Regions from separate parts of the Homo sapiens genome. Here regions 2 and 3 are each linked to region 1. The links come from fine-mapping of genetic effects on gene expression. A gene starts in region 1. Each other region holds a variant in brackets. All regions are shown on one strand. Distances are between the middles of the regions. Region 1 holds the start of DCAF16 (DDB1 and CUL4 associated factor 16). Region 2 has its middle 8.4 kb from the start of FAM184B. Region 3 overlaps LCORL (ligand dependent nuclear receptor corepressor like).

Region 1 (7,460 bases):
TCTCCAAAAGAAATTAATACCTGGTAACATACTTAATACAGTAAGATTCTACCTAAATTACCTGTGTTCTCCATAAAACCTCAACTGAAGAAATTATTACATGCCAAGTATTTTTCAAAGGCACTTTAAGAAAATGGCTCCTTGTCCTTTAAGAATATGCCAACACAAGACATTGAACTTATTTACCTGATAAGCCAGCTTTCTGACAGCCTCTTTCACATCCTTGGTGCGCCCTACAATTTTTGGCAAAGTCTTTGCTGATGGTGCAATACATGATAACACTGCCCGTCTAACTTCTGGATTTGAATCATTTTCAATCAAAGTAGCATATGCTAAAAATAAAGCAATACATTTTAGTACTGATGAAATTATTTATTTAACTACAGTCATAAAATAACACACATTTTGATATTTTAAAATGCCTTTAATGTGATAAAGATAGGCTGGGCATGATGGCTACTGCCTATAACCAGCACTTTGGGAGGCCAAGGTAGGTGGAGAGCTTGAAGCCAAGAGTTCAAGACCAGCCTGAGCAATATAGAAAGACCCCTGTCTCTACAAAATAATTTTAAAATAAAAAATTAGCTAGGCATGGTAGTGGCGCTTCCAGTTACTTAGGAGGCTGAGGTGGAAGGATCACTTAAGCCCAGGAGTTTGAGGCCACACCTCTGCAATCCAGCCCGAGTGAGAACCCATCTGTAATAGAAAGTAATGTCATTTTTTTAGTCTCACATATTTTAGTTGAAGTTTTTTTCCCACCAACTTCCTTCTTTTTCTTTTTTTTGGAGACAAGGTCTCACTATGTTGCCCAGGTTGGAGCCAAAGTGCTGAGATTACAGGCCTGAGTCACTGCTGCGCAGGCCACCAACTTCCCTTCTAAAGACACAAGGGGGAATTAGTCAACGGACTGGCTCTTAGGCCAAAAGTGAAAACAAATAGCCCTAAAAGTCACAGAAAATTCATCATTAAGATTATGTCTGTGCTACTCCTCAATATTTAAGAGAAAGCTTACTATAGCAGACAGTTTATTTTAAACTGATATGGCTTTATAAGGGCCCATTATTTTGGTTTTTAATGAGACCTAAAAGGAAATATTTTTTGGTTTTATTCATTGAAACAAACCCATTTCTTATATTTAAATATATTTATCTGTACTTCTCACATCTTTCCTACCTCAATTATTAAGTACAGGTTGACTATCAAATACCTATGTTTTACACAATATTATTATGGGTATCTTTTAACACCAAAAAAAATACCAACTACTATAGTGATAAATATACCAGTGATTATAAAACTGGTAATAGGGACAAAAAGGACAGAAGAGTGCCTAAAACATACCTAGGCATATATGGAAAAATGAAATACAACTACCTTTATGACCCCATAGGTAAGAAAAAGTTCCTTAAAAAAGAGATTAAAAAATACGAATCATAATGGCAGAGATTTATATTTTTGACATAAGAATTTCTGTTCAAAAAAAAGATACCCCAAAGGGAGTGAAACAATGATACCCCAATGAGCCACCTAAAACAGGAAGAGATCTACAATTCATATAACCCAAGGATTTCTTTTCAAAATATATAAAGAATGCAAATGAATTTTTTAAAATAGTATTTTAAATTAAAAACCCAATGAAAAAATGGGCAAAACACAGTAACAGGTATTATATAGAAATATAATTGGCTGCTAAATATATACATACAGCATGATTTACACAAAATGACAGGAAAACATTAAGATAGACATATGTGATTTATGCAAAAAAATTTTTTTTAATTTAAGCAAGAGACTAATTAACCCCAAACTGAGGATTTAATAGTTACTTCTGAGGGACAGGGATGCAACTGGGATAGGATGCAAGTACTGACTTTTTTTTTTAAGCTGGGTGGTTGCTACTTAGGTTTTTTTTGTTTAATCGGAATCATATATTAATTACCTATACTCTTCAAATGTATAGACCATAATAAAAAATTTCAAATACTGAGAATTTAACAAAATCAACAAATCTGAAAAAAGATTTAGGAAACTACACACACCATTAACCACTGGGCATTCATCATCCTTGGGATCCTGAAGTCGTGAAAGCGCCAGAACTGCCTGTATTCTCACATTTGGAATCTTATCTTTCAATCTAATAAGCATGGCTTTATTAATTTTATCAAACACATCATCATCAATCTGAGCATTTTCTGGCATACTTCCCAAAAGCTTGTTTATGAGCAGGCACACTCTAAATCTCACTGCATTGCTGTTTGCTTCATGAGACTAAAACAGAAACAAATCAAAATTTATTCATAGTCACATACCACTCCCAAATAATCAATATTATCTGAACTCTATACATTCGGAATGCAAGAAGTTACAACAACAATTCATTTCCTGAAGAGAACCTATAATGCTACCTTGGTCCATATGTATAGCAAATATATATATTTTATACAGTCTCAAAATGAACAGTCTGAAAGAAGTCTTTGCTAAGTTACATAGTCCTCTTTGTAGAGGCTTCTAAAATACAGAACTCATTTAAAATAAACAAAGGAGAACTGGTTTAAAGAGGTCATTAAAAATTTAATGCTGGAGTTAAAGTCCACTTTTTAATCATAATGATAATTCTAATATTTCCTATGAAAGGTAGACTCATTCAGGTTTTTTCAATCACTAGATATTTCATTGTCAAAAACATACAAACTCCCACGACTCTTTTAAAGTGGCAAAATTTTCTAAAATCCCTCCCCAAAGCTATCATTTTCATAGTACCTTTAAGAGAAAAGTAAACAAATAATTTAAAAGGCCACCATCTTCCTCTTCCTCATCATCTTCCATATCTGATTGGTGAAATGAGGTAACAAACTTTGCTGCAAATTCTATTACCCTCTCCACAGCTGGTTCACGTTTATAGACCACCATAACATATTTAAGGTAATGAATGAACTCCTCATGAAAAACTGTCTTATCATCCATCTGAAAGACAAAAGAAACCCTTCATAAACTGCACCGATAAAAATCCTTTATTCCCAACATCACCCTAAGACTGATGAAAGCACTAGCCATAATAATGCAGACAAATTAAAATATTTATTTAGTAAACTCTTAATTATCCAAACCAGCCAAAGGGCAATCAATTTGCATGAATTTCTCTCCAGGCTATAATGGGAGTACACAAGCTTGACTTTTGACAGTGAAAAGATTCCTTTGATATATTTTTTTCAATATCTTTGATTCTCAATAAGCCTTTAGTACCAGTACGTTACAAATACGCTTCTTCAACAACCCAAAATCAATACTGGCTTTTATATTTCTCATATTCAGGCCTTCCTATCACCAGCAGTTTCTTTATGAGATAACTTGCACATCCTATCTCATATCCTCAAAGCCCTGTGATGTTTACTCACAATTTTTCTTGGACCTCAAGATAATTCATCTTCCCCAAATTAATTGTTCTATTCTTCTCAAGGTTCCACTCAAAACAAACAAATAGTATGTACATAAATAAGAATGGCCAGGCCCTAAAAATAATTTGGTATTTGGTGATTGGATTCAACGTAACCGTAGGACAAGGGTAGAATCATTTGATGTTCGGCGGGGAGCGATGACCCCAGGGGCAACGACCACTGAACCCCCGCATTCAGGATCCACTCTGCGGTTCAATATTTGATGTCTGATCGCCTCGGTGGTCGTAAATGTTTCTCTCCACGTTCACGATCGGACTAAGGAATAACGGTCCACGCCGCCCAGAAGCTGGGGGTGTCGGCTCAGAAAAGCCAAGGCGGGGCCCGTGTGAACGACGCCCAGGCTTCGGAGGCTTTCTGGCCTGGGCCCAGGCGACCTCGGGTAAGTCCCTGACTTCTCCGAACCTCAGATCCCTATGAAGTGAGTCGCGAAGGTGAACAAGGCTGGAGTCACGGTGCGCCGAGCCCGAGGGCCACGGAGGGCCCCTGAGGGAGGGTGGGCCGGGGCGGGCGAGAGGCGGCGGCCGGGGCCGGGAGCGCTTACCGTGCGGTAGGTGCGGCTCAGCGCCACCACCAGCTTCGCCTGGTTCTGGTGCGGCTGCTGCGCCAGCCGAAAGGCCTCCTTAATCGACAGCAGCCTCCTTTCCGCTCCCATGGCTCTGGAACCCTGCCGGGACGAGTCCTGCCCGCGCTCGGCTACAGCCTGCCAGCCCGCCAACCCAGAGGCAGCGCTCTCCGAGTAGTCTTCTATGACAGCCCCAGGGAGTATTTACCGCTCGAACGTTCAAATAATTCCCGCGAGAGGGGGAAATCCCGCGAGACTGCCGTAAGCGCTTTGGGAGAAGAGAGCGGGAAGCGATGGGTCCACCCACCTCGCACCCCGCGCTTTGGGCGCATGCGTCTAGGTTCAACCTTGTCCAGCCGTTTTCACGGAGGGAAGTGGCGTTTCTAAGGGGGAGGGGCCTTGACTCGGCCGGAAGTAGCGTCGGCGCGGGAGCTGAGCGGAGTGGCCTTGCCACCGGAGGGGAAGGGCTGCTGGCGTTAGGCCTGGCTGGGTCGTGCGGCTGAGCGTGAGGCTAGAAAGAAAAAGCGATCCTCCAAGAGTGAGAACGGGAGATCTGCCGAGGATAACAACCTCCCTTGTGGCCGAAGGGCGGGGGATCCCCACACGAGGGCTCCGCTTCGAGAGACGGCGACAAAGGAAAGTTCGTAGCGCGTTCCGGAGGCCCGGCCACCTCTGAGAAGGGAGACGACGCTGCTGGGTCCGCTGAGCGGGGCGACCCGAGGTTAGTGGAGACGGATGCTGTCTTTTGAAGGCCTTAGTCCCTGCCCTGGTGAAGCCGACTGCGAGGTTCCACAGGGCGTGCAGGCAGTCCGGGGATCGTTGCGAAGGGGGGTGCGGGCTAACTTAGCTGCTGCCGTTTCTAGATGTGCAGCTGTGTAGGCCCTGTTTACAAGTGTGCATAAGGACAGTGTATTAAGGGAGAACTCAAGAGAATGGAAAGGTCTTTCGGGTAGTGGTTAAAATAAAGAAGAGTAGGAACTAGGTTTTTAAATTTTAAATGAAATTATATCAGACAGAACTTCTGTTGGATCTCAGGATGCACCATCCAAAAATAGGACTGTAGGAGACCAAAATATGCCACCCTACAATATACTTCTAGAGTATATTTTGAGCTGGTATTCTGATAAAATGCAGACACAGGAGTCGCTCTGAAAATCTGTCCTGTTGTAAAAGAAATTGACATCTACAGAGGAAATATACATCAGTAAAGGATCTGTATCAGAAAGAGGGCAGCTCTGCGATAATTTTTGTTACCTGGGAGATCTTATCTGCATACCAAGACAACTTTTATTCACCGTATATTTCCTCCCCTCACCTTTCCACAACTTTGTGGCCACCATCCCCCAGAAAGCCGCAAGCCCCCATTTCTTGAGTAGCGTAGGATGCTGTATAATATTCAATCATCTGACCATGGTGGGACTCCTCTGCGTATGTAATTAAGTACGGGTTTTTTTTCTTGTTAATGTCTATGTCAGGTTAATTTGTAACCCAGCCAAAGAACCTAGGAGGATGGAGGGAAGCCGTTTTTCCCTCTCCTACACCTCAGTAACCTACTGCCAGCTGAAGAAATAGAACATTACTAAAGCCACCTGTACATCTTTCTCCTTTTGAATTACCTGCCCTCCGAAGAAGTAATGGATTTTCTGAATTTACTGTTAACTTTTACCATGCAGCTTTCTATATCTTAATGACATATTTTAATATATTAATGACATGAATAAATCCCTGAATGAGGATATTGTACTATTTTGCATGTTTTAACCGTTAAATGAATAATTATATGTGCATCTGGCTTTTTTCAATCAATATTGCTGTGGTTCATATTGATATGTTCATAATAGTAACTTGCACTTAATTAACCTTTATTATGTGCCAGACACCATGCTAAGCACTTTACTTCGTTTACTGCTCACAAACCCTGTAGGATAACTTTGATCTTCTTTTAAGATGAGGAAACTACGGCACAGACAGGTTGCTATAGTACTCCATTGTATTAATATGCCATACCTTATCCATTCTCCTGCTTAATTCCTCAAACTTTGTAGATATTCAGCTGCTAGTTAAGAATGTGGTAACATTTGTGTTGCCCATAATTTTGCTTTGTGACGTTTCTAATATATATTTTTTTATTTTTATTTTGAGACAGAGTCTTGCTCTGTCGCCCAGGCTGGAGTGCAATGGCGCGATCTCGGCTCACTGCAACCTCTGCCTCCCGGGTTGAAGCGATTCTCCCGCCTCAGTCTCCCAAGTAGCTGGGTTACAGGCATGCACCACCACACCTGGCTAATCTTTTGTATTCTTAATAGAGACGGGGTTTCGCCATGTTGGCCAGGCTGGTCTCGAACTCCTGACCTCAGGTGATCCACCCGCCTTTGCCTCCCAAACTGTTGGGATTACAGGCGTGAGCCACCGCGCCCGGCTAGTATTTCTTTACTATATTCTATTTGGCTGTCTCACCAACAGAGACATCACACCATTTTGTCAGTTACAGAAGAATGAGACATCTGGCCGCCAGAGGTCAGCCTAACTATATTTCGGTTAGTTTTTTTTTTTGTTTTGTTTTGTTTTAATGGTTAAAGCCATGGGGGTATTGGTTCAGTATTTTTTGATATTATAATCTGAAAATATTTTTTCAAAGGTGCTAGATTAAATTTAAACAACATAGTATACTGCCTTAAAGCTTACATTTTTCCTGACTTTTGTACTGTGAAACAGAACAAAAACAATTATGGGAAAGTAAGAGCCTTTTTAAAAATTTTCTGAGTAACATAATAACTGAAGTATAGCCAATTAGTAATCTCACAGGTGCAATCTGGTTGAAGTGAAAATAGTAAAAATATTAGAGGACAGCACAATTAAAAGCCAACAGCTTCTCCTGTCTCAGTTAATAAAGACTTACGGTCCACGACAAAGAATGAATACTCTTTTTCAGATTGAACAAGGTAATAGTACTATAATCTAAACTTAGAAGTATTACATTGTTTCTTCTTAAAGTTATAAGCAGTTTCCTTTATATTGCTGTAGTAGCATCATATATGTTGATCCTGCCTTAAAAAAATTATCTCATTTGTCTTTGTCTAACATTACCAAATCACCAAGATATAACTTGGAACTGTTCTCTCCCTGGAGTAAAATAGAACATGCTTGTGGTAGTTACTTACTGCAGGCCTTTGCCATTCTCTGACTCTTTTATTTACTGAGCCACTCATATATGCCAGACACTGTGCTAGGAGTGTGTGAAAGCCAGAGAAATACTCATTAGAGGAAAATTGCTGACCTGAAGCCATACCATATGACCTTATTAGCACAACTCAGTGTATTCGATAATGAAAATGTTCACTGACTTTGATTTTGGAAATCCCCCCTACAGAGTAGCATAAACGAGACATTGATATTGTCTCTTTTCTCATTTAAAGCTATGCCTTTAAAGGCCACCCATGTTG
Region 2 (7,460 bases), 21 kb after region 1:
GTGTATACATTCGTATCAAGATCATATAAAAATGTATACACTCAGATCAAAGTATTAAAAATTTCAAATTCTCTTATGCCCTTTCCTAGTCTATACATCTCGCAGAAATAACTCTTCTTTTCTAAAGATCTGTTAGTTTTGGTTGTTCTCAGATTTCATGTGAATGGAATCATACAGTATATATTGTTTTATGCCTGGCTTCTTTCAGCAATGTACTTCTTCTTTTTTTTATTGTTATAGACTATTTGATTATATGAATATATCATAATTCATTTATCCTTTTACCTGTTGACATTTATTTCCAATTTTTTGTTATTATGAATAAAGCTATAATAAACATTCTGTGTGTATTGTTTTGGTTTGGTTTTTTGTGGATATGTGTATTCATTCCTTTGGGTATATACCTAGGCACCAAATTGCTATATCAGAGTAGTTGTGTATTTATTTTTAATAAAACTGCCAAACACTTTTTTTTTATGTAAGTTTTAGGGTACATGTGCACAATGTGCACGTTTGTTACATATGTATACATGTGCCATGTTGGTGTGCTGCACCCATTAACTCGTCATTTAACATTAGGTATATCTCCTAATGCTGTCCCTCCTGCCTCCCCCCACCCCACAACAGGCCCCGGTGTGTGATGTTCCCCTTCCTGTGTCCATGTGTTCTCATTGTTCAATTCCCACCTATAAGTGAGAATATGCAGTGTTTGGTTTTTTGTCCTTGCGATAGTTTGCTGAGAATGATGGTTTCTAGCTTCATTTATGTCCCTACAAAGGACACGAACTCATCATTTTTTATGGCTGCATAGTATTCCATGGTGTATATGTGCCACATTTTCTTAATCCAGTCTATCATTGTTGGACACTTGGGTTGGTTCCAAGTCTTTGCTATTGTGAATAGTGCCTCAATAAACATACATGTGCATGTGTCTTTATAGCAGCATGATTTATAATCCTTTGGGTATATACCCAGTAATGGGATGGCTGGGTCAAATGATATTTCTAGTTCTAGATCCCTGAGGAATCGCCACACTGACTTCCACAATGGTTGAACTAGTTTACAGTCCCACCAACAGTGTAAAAGTGTTCCTATTTCTCCACATCCTCTCCAGCACCTGTTGTTTCCTGACTTTTTAATGATCGCCATTGTAACTGGTGTGAGATGGTATCTCATTGTGGTTTTGATTTGCATTTCTCTGATGGCCAGTGATGATGAGCATTTTTTTCATGTGTCTTTTGGCTGCATAAATGTCTTCTTTTGAGAAGTGTCTGTTCATATCCTTCACCCACTTGTTGATGGGGTTGTTTATTTTTTTCTTGTAAATTCGTTTGAGTTCTTTGTAGATTCTGGATATTAGGCCTTTGTCAGATGGGTAGATTGCAAAATTTTTCTCCCATTCTGTAGGTTGCCTGTTCACTCTGATGGTAGTTTCTTTTGCTGTGCAGAAGCTCTTTAGTTTAATTAGATCCCATTTGTCAATGCCAAACACTTTTTAATGTGACTGTATCATTTTACACTCTCACCAACAATGTATGGAAGTTCCAGTTGCTCCATATCTTTACAAACACTTGTGATTGTCAGTCCTTTTAATTTTACTCATTCTGGTGGTTGTTTAATGGTATCCCAGTGTGACTTTAATTTACTTTGATTTAATTTAATTTTGATTTAATTTAATTTAATTTTCTTTGATCAGTGTTGTTAAACACCTTTTTATATGCTTATGAGACATTCAGATACCTCTTTGCAAGTACTTGTCTAGGGTTTTGGCCACTTGTAAAATAGATTATCTTGTTCTTATTAATTTGTAGTTCTGTTTTTTTTATTTTTTAGAAATGGGCTCACACTGTTGCCCAGGCTTGTCTCGAAATCCTGACCTCAGACAATCTTACCCTCTCAACCTCCCAAAATCCCCCAGCTGAAATTACAGGCATGAGCCACCATGCCCAGCCTATAGGAGTTTTTATATACACTGTATACAAGTTGTTTATTTATATAATGAATTTCTTATGTCATTCTATGCCTTGCCTATTTTCTTTTTTTTAAGACAGAGTCTTACTCTGATGCCCAAGCAGGAGTGCAGTGGCGGGATCTCAGCTCACTGCAACCTCTGCCTTCCAGGCTCAAGCAATTCTTGTGCCTCAGCCTCCCAAGTAACTGGGATTACAGGTGTGTGCCACCACACCCAGCTAATTTTTGTAGGTTTTTGTTGTTGTTGTTGTTAGTAGAGACAGAGTTTCTCCATGTTGGCCAGGCTGGTCTCGAACTCTGACCTCAAGTGATCTGCCCGCCTTGGCCTCCCAAAGTGCTGGAATTACAGGTGTGAGCCACCACACCCAGCCATTGTTTGTTTTCTTAATGGTATATTTTGATGAGTAGAAGTTTTCAAGTTTGATGAAATCTAATTTATCAGATTTCTTTTTGTATTATGGTTAGTGCTTTAACAAATCTTTGTTAACTTGAATATTATGAAAATAGTCTTCTATTTTTTTAGAAGATTTATAGTTTTAGCTTTCACATTTAAGATACAATTTCAAATTTTATTACTGAGAAGAGAATATTTGTGGGTATCTCATTTTTCTCTAATACTTTCTCCTTTTCTTCACATTCTTTATCCAAATTCAAGGGGATTTATCATATATGATATTTATGTCTTTGGAGTTTTTTTTGTTTTTTTTGTTTTCATGAAATTTGGGTAGGAAAGTTGACATACTGTTTTTAAGTTATCCCCAAAAGACTGAAGAATTCCCAAATTGTACTTCTTCCTAAAAACTAATTATCTAAGTGGCATAAATTAACTAAAAATCAAACAGTTCTTAACACTTATTTTGTTTAAAATTTTGAATTTTAGCACACCAATTCTGCATTAGAATGAATGAAAAATAACCAGATCTGTATTATTCTACCATATATTATTATTTAAATTTTTTTTACATTTTTGAGTTATTCTTTTAGACATTATCTAGTCTTACTATTTTAAATATTATCCTTCTACTTCCCTGTTATTCAACTACCAGAAAGTTCTCAGTATCAGTTTCTGTACAAAACATTGACACTTTCTACAATTATTATTTGTAGCAGTTTACTTTTGTAGTACATACACATTAATGTTTTTGCTTATTAATAGAAGCACATTCAGTCACTCAGCAAATATTTATTGA[C/G]CACCTACACAGTGCCAAGTGCTAAGAATTTAGCAATAAACAAAACAGACAAAAATTCCTGCCTTCATAAAGCTTACATTGCAGTGAGATTTTTTTTTTCACTTCAGTTTATAACTGGAATGTTTTTGTTTACCTTTATTTTAAAATGAACGTTCAGACCAGGTGTGGTGGCTCATGCCTAAAATCCCAGCATTTTGGGAGGCCAAGGTGAGAGGATCGCTTGAGTTCAGAAGTGTGAGACCAGCCTGGGCAACATAGGGAGACCTCATCTCTACCAAAAATTTTTTTAAATTAGCCAGGTATGGTGGTGGCATGCACCTGTGGTCCCAGCTACTCAGGAGGCAGAGGTGGAAGGATCACTTGAGTCCACACCACTATACTCCAGCCTGGGTGACAGAGTAAGAGACCTTGTTTAAAAAAACAAAACAAAACAAAACAAAAACAGATAATCTGCAATAAGTCTGAATTATTTGCACTAGTTAATTTTATGTCCATTACAAATGAGTGCTCCCCGAGGTCAGGAGATCAAGACCATCCTGGCCAACATAGTGAAACCCCTTCTCTACTAAAAATACAAAAAAATTAGCCAAGCATAGCAGCACACACCTGTAATCCCAGCTACTCAGGTGGCTGAAGCAGGAGAATCGCTTGAACCCAGAAGGCGGAGGCTGCAGTGAGCCAAGATCGTGCCACTGCACTCCAGCCTGGCGACAGAGTGAGACTCCGCCTCAAAAAACAAAAGGTGTGCTCCCTTTTCATAGTGTACAGTTATGAAAAATTGCTAGCCAGTCAAAAAGTACATTTCCCTGATCCCCTTATATCTAGATAGTGCATATCAGTTTTTGCCGATGGAGTGACAACAGAATTGGTGTGTTACTTCAAGGCCAAGGTGTTTTAGAAGTGAATATACCTTCTCTGTGTTCTTTTTTGCATTTTGCTGGCTGGATGCAGATGACTGTCAGGCTCTAGGGGATAGTGGACCCGCAAGATAGAAGGAGCTGATCCTTGATTCACTTTGGACAGGAAAGAGGTCCAAAGACCAGTAACTCAGTCACTTTAATGTGACCAAAAAAACCATGTCAAGCTACTTGTGTAGTTTAGCAATTAGCATCACCTTAATAATATGCTTGCTTCGTTAATACTGCAGATGCTGTTAATCTGACCAGATATGATGTTTGTCTGAAAACCAAACCATTATTATTGATCAGGTACAATTTCTGGAATAACAAAGACAATATTGAAGGTGGAAGTTAGCTATGTAGCCTCCCAAAGGCCAAGGTCAGTGCCTAAGAGCAGATTTTTGCTGAACATTGAGGCCAGTGCAGATTCCAGTACATCCCCATCAGGTAGTGACTTAAAAAAAAAAATAGTATGGGAGGCAGGTGTTGTATAAGAAAGTAGGAGTAATTGTGATCATTCTTTGACCATGAACCATAATGTTACTACAACTGTAGTCATATTAAGTGGTTAGTGAAATTCTAAGCAAATAAGCCTGAGGAATGTGGAGGAGATATGGTGTGGGAGAACCATGTCCTTCTGCATTCATTATGGTAGTAAGCACAAAATGGGTCAGAAAATAATATCTACATGCTCAGAATGCTCCTGTATTAATAGAACTGGTTGCCCCTGGGGGAGTGGAAACAGTGACCAGGAACAAAGGTGGGAGGGAACCTTTTCATTTTTTCACTTTTGAATATTGTACCATAAGTATATATTATGTGTTCAAAAATCATCATTTTATGATTAGCTTTGAGAATTGATTGGTCAGGGAAGATAATAACTTTACTGAATTTCACCAAAGTGCTTTTTGAAAATTGGTGGATGAGATTGCAAAACTTATAACATAACTTAGTAAGTACAGGTAATGATATTCTTCGCTTGAATCAATGAAATTTCATAGGTTTTCGGTTATAACAGCTATTAAAGTCAGTGTTGAAATAAACTGAACTTAACACTAGACCTCTGAACTTAAAACTAGACCTCTGAATCACAGTATCTCAAAATGATAAATTCAATTATGTTGCTTTATTTTAAATGTTGCAATACTGTGTCATAATGTGTTATTAGTATACAATATTTCTAACATTTCATGAAATAACTCACTGCTACGGGAGCTCAAAGACAGCACCTCTGACTGGAGTAGTCAGTCCAGGGCTACCTCATGGGTGTGATTTGAACTGAGAATTGAAGGATTTTGGGATGTGGATAGCAGAGAGGACAAGAAGAACATCACAAAGCAATTAGAGGGAACTAGCAAGGGTTGGTTGGGCCATGAAGCAATTCTCTACATGGTGTCTGGTAGCATCTACAACAGCATCACTGAAGAGATTGTTTTAAATGCCTGACCCCAGACCGATGAATCAAAATTTCTGAGATGGGGAAGCAGAAATACTCATTTTTATCAAACTCCTTGTTTAGTAAATATAAACAAATTTTATGTTTACTAATATTTGAGAATTTCTAACCCCAGGTAAATACTCTGGATAATACTTGTCTGCAAAGACACTGTGGAGGACAACCACCACCAAAAACAGCAGGAGTCAATTCCAAAAAGAGAAATTGAGAAACAACTACAATGCAATATTCAACCATAGATCAGACATATTACCGATACTTTAGTCCATTAAAAAATTTGAGTTGCCACTTAGTACATAGCTCAAATGATCATATCAATATTTAACACAATCTGACTATGACTTTGCTATAAAACATTTTATTCCAAAATGTCATTCTCCATGGTGTCATGTCAATATACTGAAATCTCAGTACAAACGTCACCATTGTGTAAAAGAGGTTTTCATTTTACTCCCTGGGAGATGAGATGGAAGATTTGATACCATGCTACGTTTAATGAAACCCTGAATACTAGTTAATGTGTGTTAGGATTACAGTTAAAAAAAAAAAAACATGATGCTAATTTACACGTGTGTTCTTACATTCACTCAAAAAAGGGAAGATGTTTGACAGAAAACATCAGCTTTTAAAAATAAAATATGGTATAGGTGCTATACGGAAATGCAGAGCTACGAGAACATATCTTAAGGACATGCAGACTGATCTGCAACTACAGAGACAGCCTTCCTATGGAACTGACATTCAGGCTGAGATCTGAAAGATGAGTAGGAATGAGTCAGGCATAGTAGGGGAAAAAGCCTTCTAGATACTCAAGAATGTGAACTTGGTTTTAGATGAGTAATATATTAGGAGTAATAACAATAATCGAGTTACCTGTGCCACTTAACTGATTAGGAAAGAAAAATACTAATTAAAAGCTTTAGCCTAAGTAAATCTACCGAAGTAAATTTTTACCAAAGAAATCACCTAAGGCAACACTTAGATTATCAGCGTGGTAAAGATGAATTATTTAATACCTGTTGGGACAACCATTTAGCCATCTGGAAAAGCATAAGTCTGGAGTCTAACCTCATTCCATATATCAGCATAAATCCCAGGTAGATAAACCATATTTTAAATGAAGTCATGAAAGTACTAGGATAAACTATGGATTCCCTTTTCCTCATAATCTGGGGTAGAAAAGGCTTTTCTAAGCATGAGGAAAAAGCCAAAAAATGTGAGGGAAAAGATCAACAGATTTTCCTACATAAAAATTCAAAATGTTTATAGAGCATGAGAAAGCTAGAAAAAAAATCCGCTAACTGCGGGAAATGTTTGCAATATATATGATAGGCAAAGTGCTAAAAGCCCCTATTAAGGAAGAGCTCTTTGTAAGCAGCAAGAAAGCCAGGCAAAAACAATGACTAATCAAGTTGTGGGAAGGTATTCAGTTCTACCAGCAAACAAGTGGTGCGGGGGAATATTTCTGTGGGAACACTTGCACATCTGTGCAAAAACCCACTTACAACAATGTCATGTAGGCAGTTCCCTTGATGCAATAGTAACCTTAAAATACACGATTAGGCAGGCTGTCCCAGGTGTCATGGACAGGAAACCTCACACCGCAAATTAAGAGGCTCAAATCACATGGTTTATCGCTTTTAAACAAAATATAGTTGGAAAGATATAGTGACGTTTAACACATTTAGGATAGGGTCCAAGAGAGGTGGGAGGAAAAATTACCTGAATTTCATGTTACGCAGTGTTGTGGCGTCTTATCTGCTACATCAACCTTTACCTCTGATAATTAGGTTATGAGGACCGCAGCCAAAACTGAAAATGGGGGCTCAGCGGTGCTTACAGCCAGTGCACACTTGCTCTGTCAGAAACTCAGGGGCAAGGATACCTAGCTAATGGCCTGCTGAGAGCCGTGGGTTTTTTGTTTGTTTGTTTGTTTGTTTTTAT
Region 3 (5,000 bases), 130 kb before region 1:
GTGTCATGAGTGATTCTGATATTTTTTGTTTGTATTCTCACATAATTTAAAAGATTATCATCTTTTAAATGTAATTTTTATAATAATAGTACTCTGTAAAACATGCTCTAATAATACATGAGTTTTCCCATGTACCTCATTTAATAATGTGATGTAGTTAACTGCTGTCAAGAATTACCCTTATCTCTAAAGTACTTTGGAACCTCAGCGTCTTATTCTTTCTCTGTGTTTCTTAATTTGCTAAGATATAAGGAATCTATAATTCTTGCAGAGGGTGTGATTAAATACTGTACCTGGGAAGTGTGATAAATTAGTTTTGTATATTATTTCACCATTTTTATTTTACATATAATTATGAACTGTCTGCTGCAGTTTACTGTCTGCTATTGGCTAGTTGTATATTATATCCACAGCCTGCTCATACTGTTTTTGTAAAGTTTATCTGTAGACTTTCCAGCCTGTAGAACTGTGAGAAACAAATTTCTGTTGTTTATAAACTATCCAGTCTAAAGTATTTTATTATTGCAACCCAAATAGACTAAGACAAGTGCTCTGTAAAATAGTATGTGCGTATAGGTAGGGGTTATTATCTAAGATGTCCGCTGAAGTGCAGGACTTCTATTTATATATATCCTTCATAAAATAAGAATTCTCCAATAAAAGGAACCAAAGCCCCTTGGAGAAGTGGTTGTTTGCATGGCTGGGGCTAGGAAAATAAAGATGAGCTTGGAGCATTTTGTGTTGCCAGAAAGTAAGGAAGTGCTCAAAAAAAAGTATGGGAACACAGGAGCCATCCTGAAAGAGCTCCTGATGGCCAGAGTTGCAACAATTTGAGCAACAAAGTAAACAACAATAGTTATAACAATAATTTGGATTATTACCTGTAGAATAAAATTAATATCCATGTTTTAATACTGATATAAGTGAATAAATAAATGAGAAGGAAGGGGCAGTTCTTTCTTACAGAAATAAATATTCCAGTTAAAAAATGTGGAATGGGATAGTGAATAGGTACAAAGAAAAGGTAGAAGATTGAATGAGTAAGACCTAGTATTTGATAGCACAACAGGGGTCTATAGTCAATAATAATTTAATTGTACATTTTAAAGTAACTAAAATCAATGAGCCTACTTAAAAAGACTATGTATCTGCTAAAGAATGTAATAGGGAAAACTGTAGTCACAAGGGAATCAGACTTCTGCTTTAACAAGTCTAGGACATTCACAAATACAGTGGTCAGGTCCTGGCTTTAATTAGGCAAAAAACTATGGACAGTGGCATGAATAAGTATGGGTAAACTAGATTTAAGACTAAAAGAAGATACCATGCCCATATCCTCTTTTGAGGAAAACCACCTAGGGTGGGTAGCTTCATTAAGCTATGGTAGGACATGGCTTTCACTAAAACCTTAAGTAAAGTGTGAGTAACAAATGAAATTTGGAAGTATATAATGGGTCTGGCAAGTTTTCTTTTGTGATAATGGTATGGATTCTTATGATAATGTGTCTGTACCCCTTAACCTACCCCCGCCAAAAACTCCTAAAATGTTTTAAAAACCAAAGGTCCTATGATTCTGTATTCTTTATATTCCTGTGACCTGGCATATTCCTCATTCTACATGGGCTATTGAGACCATCAAATCTGTAGAATAAAAAGAAATTTCAGGAAGCCCATGTCCACTTACTTTATCCTTGATTTTGTATTTATTCTTTGCAGCGCATATCAGTGGTGAAATAGTAAGCCAAAGTGAAAGCAACATAAGCAATGTGTTAAGTCTTCATTCTTGCCAGCCTTTGAACCAGCTAACTCATAAGCCTTCCAGAAGAAAAATCATTTTTCTCTAGTAATTCCTTTCAGCGAGTGTTAGTAACTTTTGGTATAAGGTGTGAGAGAATAAAGGAATGTTTTCTCATTTTTGTTTTTCTGTGAACTACCAATTTTAAAAGATTAGTTTATTGCTCAATTATTAATGCAGTCCTTATTCCCTTTGAAGAGTGAAGAGTCATTTCATTTATGAGATACTCACTGAGTTACCTTACTGAGTTGTGGTTACCATGGTTGATCACCAAATAGTTGAGTAAGGTTTAGTGTTTAGTCTCAAGGAGGACATTGCTTGTTACAGTAGGATACGGTGGAGATACAATAGGGAGAATAATATATGAGCTCTTGATTCTCTTGTCATCTCAGGGGTGTTGAAACTGAAGACAAAATGAGCCGCCGGATCAGCAGTCCCCAACGTTTTTGGCACCAGGGACAGGTTTCGTAGAAGACAATTTTTCTCAGGCAAGGTGTTGCAGGGAGATGGTTTCGGGATAAAACTGTTACACCTCAGATCATCAGGCATTGGTTAGATTCTCATAAGGAGTATGCAACCTAGATTCCTCTCATGCACAGTTCACAATAGGGTTGGTTCTCCTATGAGTATCTAATGCTACTGCTGAACTGACAGGAGGCAAACTCAGG[C/T]GGTAATGCTCACTTGCTGGCTGCTCACCTCCTGCTATGCAGCCCAGTTCCTTACAGGCCATGGACTGGTACCAGTCTGTGGCCTAGGGGTCGGGGACGTCTCCAAGAAATATATAATCTTTATATTGTATTCTTCCATACTAGGTTGTTAACTCCTAGAGAGCAGAAAATACATAGATTTTCTCAGTATCTTTTATTACCCTGAGCAAGTATCATAGTTATATTAGAGTTTTGATAATTGATTTTTAGTAACTTATAAAAATGAAAGATGATCTCTAGTTGAAACCCAGCTCTGTGCCTCTGTAATTATCCTATTACAGTATTTTCTAGGTAAATGCTTTTCTTAATACTAATAGTAATTTGTTTGCATTTTGCTTACAGTCTTATGCTATTTGAAAATTAAAGATGATTAAAAAGCAACATTTGGGAGGGTCTTTTATGGCTCATTCAGTAGATAAAATAGAGCAATAGTATGAGTCTTGGTAGTTGATTATTAAGCCTAATTCCTCAGTTTACCTTTCTGCTTGCTTTGTAGCATTTAGATATTTTGCATGGTCTTGTCATGACCAGAGAATAATGCATTTAAATCCTATAGTAGTCCATAGTGGTCCTTACAAAACTTAACTGACTTAGAATTGACTTTTTACCCTTATTTGGGTTTCACTCTATTGTCAAAATATTTGCTTTTCTTTGGAAACAAATCTGCTTTTTAACACTTTTACTTTGTTTTACATTTGTTCATAAGAATGCCCCAGCTATAGTAGATCTAAAAGCTTATATAAAGGTTTTGACATTTCTTGAGTACCATACTGGTTAGACTGGTTATGTTCTAACAAGTCAGATATTTGTGGCACCCCTAACTATAATTCTCCACAATAGCCTCTAGACAATAACTTTAAAGCTGTGTTGAAAGTGGCTGTGATAGGAATAAGGCATTATCTAAATGACTCTGATGGTTCAGAGATTTATGATACTTAATAGCAAGTGTCATCACTGCTGAGGAGGCAAAAAAAAAAAAAAATTCTATCATGGGAAATGATTCAGCATTCCAAATAATCTCTGGTCAAATTTCCACTACAACTCAGACTATTGTGCAGAGAAATATGAACATTGGGGTAATGTATCTAGAGTAAATTGCTTGACTGCTTTCCTATAAGAAGAAAATGGTTTACCCTTCCTTTTCAATTACAATACTTAAGTGTTTTGTATATCAAGGGTAAGAGGCTAGCTGGAAGACTTGTGCCATTATTATTCATCTCTTCTGAACTTGTCTTGCATGGTGGAATATATCGTTAGCTTATATAAGAAGTGGAAGCTAGATGAAGCAGGATGGGAGTGGAATGTCTGAGAACATTGATACAGAATAATTATGGCAGTCTATGGTTATGGTGGTTATCAATGATTTTTTTTTTTTTGAGACAGAGTCTCACTCTGTTGCCCAGACTGAAATGCAATGGTGCAATCTCGGCTCACCGTAAGCTTCGCCTTCCGAGTTCACACCATTCTCCTGCCTCAGCCTCCTGAGTAGCATATAAAAATGTATAAGTGCATATATAGTATATATGCATATAGTGTATATGTGCATATATAGTGCCTCAGCCTCCCGAGTAGGTGGGACTATAGGTGCCCACCACCATGCCCAGCTCATTTTTTGTATTTTTAGTAGAAATGGGGTTTCACCGTGTTAGCCGGGATAGTCTTGATCTCCTGACCTCGTGATCTGCCCGTCTCGGCCTCCCAAAGTGCTGGCATTACAGGCGTGAGCCACAGCGCCCGGCCCTGATGGGGATGCATTTTTAAACATTTGTTTTCTTTTTCTGATAATATTCAGAAACCTCTGAATCTTTTCTACTTTATTTTGCTTGGCAGGTTGTTCTCTGACCTCTCTTTTTCTACCTCACAGTTACAAGAAGTGAAACAGTGGATATAACATTTCGTAATTGCAACTTAAAATCAGCATATACTACTTTGCTGCTGTAATTTTCATGATACTATTTATCAGATTTTTATATATCTTTAATTTTACTTTCTAGCTCAGAGATTCTTAACCTGGGATCCACATAGTTTGCCCAAAAGTTCATAGATAGGATTTCATGGGTCCATGAACTTGAATGGTTGAAAAAATTACATTTTTATTTTCATTGACCCTTGGTTGAAATGTAACATTTACTTCAACTGTAAGCATAGACAACAAACAACAGTGGTATTAGTAGTACCTGTTCCGATAATAGAAATCATAAATATTTTTATATCATATCTTTAATTATTTTTTACATTCTCAACTACTTTGAAATTATGGTAGACATTGGACTTACTACTAGATTTTATATTTTAATGCATTAAAAGAGGCATATATATTACATCTGTATTACATATATTACATAATACATATATATTACATATATTACATAATATATATTACATATATATTACTATATTATAGTAATATAAAACTATTTTAATATAGTTTGTTTCCTATATATTCATGCATTTAAAAACATGATTCAGAGAAGGAGCCCGTGGGCTTAACCACACTG

Evidence for each region. PIP is the estimated chance that this variant, and not a neighbour inherited with it, causes the effect. A credible set is the group of variants that fine-mapping cannot tell apart.
Region 2: its variant is the best candidate, but not a certain one, in a credible set for the expression of DCAF16 in whole blood (INTERVAL, PIP 0.81).
Region 3: its variant is the best candidate, but not a certain one, in a credible set for the expression of DCAF16 in whole blood (TOPMed, PIP 0.60).

Annotation. Positions count from the first base shown.
Region 1 is chr4:17,807,725-17,815,184 of GRCh38, reverse strand. DCAF16 (DDB1 and CUL4 associated factor 16) reads left to right here and starts at 4,428. Exons shown (of 3, transcript NM_017741.4): 1 at 4,428-4,738. NCAPG (non-SMC condensin I complex subunit G) reads right to left here and starts at 4,206. Exons shown (of 21, transcript NM_022346.5): 1 at 3,997-4,206; 2 at 2,761-2,964; 3 at 2,040-2,268; 4 at 187-332. The coding sequence starts at 4,107. RefSeq lists enhancers at 3,735-4,247, 4,521-4,680, 4,248-4,759, 4,801-4,890, 6,510-6,659.
Region 2 is chr4:17,786,328-17,793,787 of GRCh38, reverse strand. It overlaps a transcript of DCAF16 not described here. Among named protein-coding and RNA genes, the nearest start is that of FAM184B, 8.4 kb to the right of the region's middle. The variant C/G (reference allele first, on the strand shown) is at 3,162.
Region 3 is chr4:17,940,337-17,945,336 of GRCh38, reverse strand. All of the region lies in intron 4 of LCORL (ligand dependent nuclear receptor corepressor like), which reads left to right. Among named protein-coding and RNA genes, the nearest start is that of LCORL, 79 kb to the left of the region's middle. The variant C/T (reference allele first, on the strand shown) is at 2,464.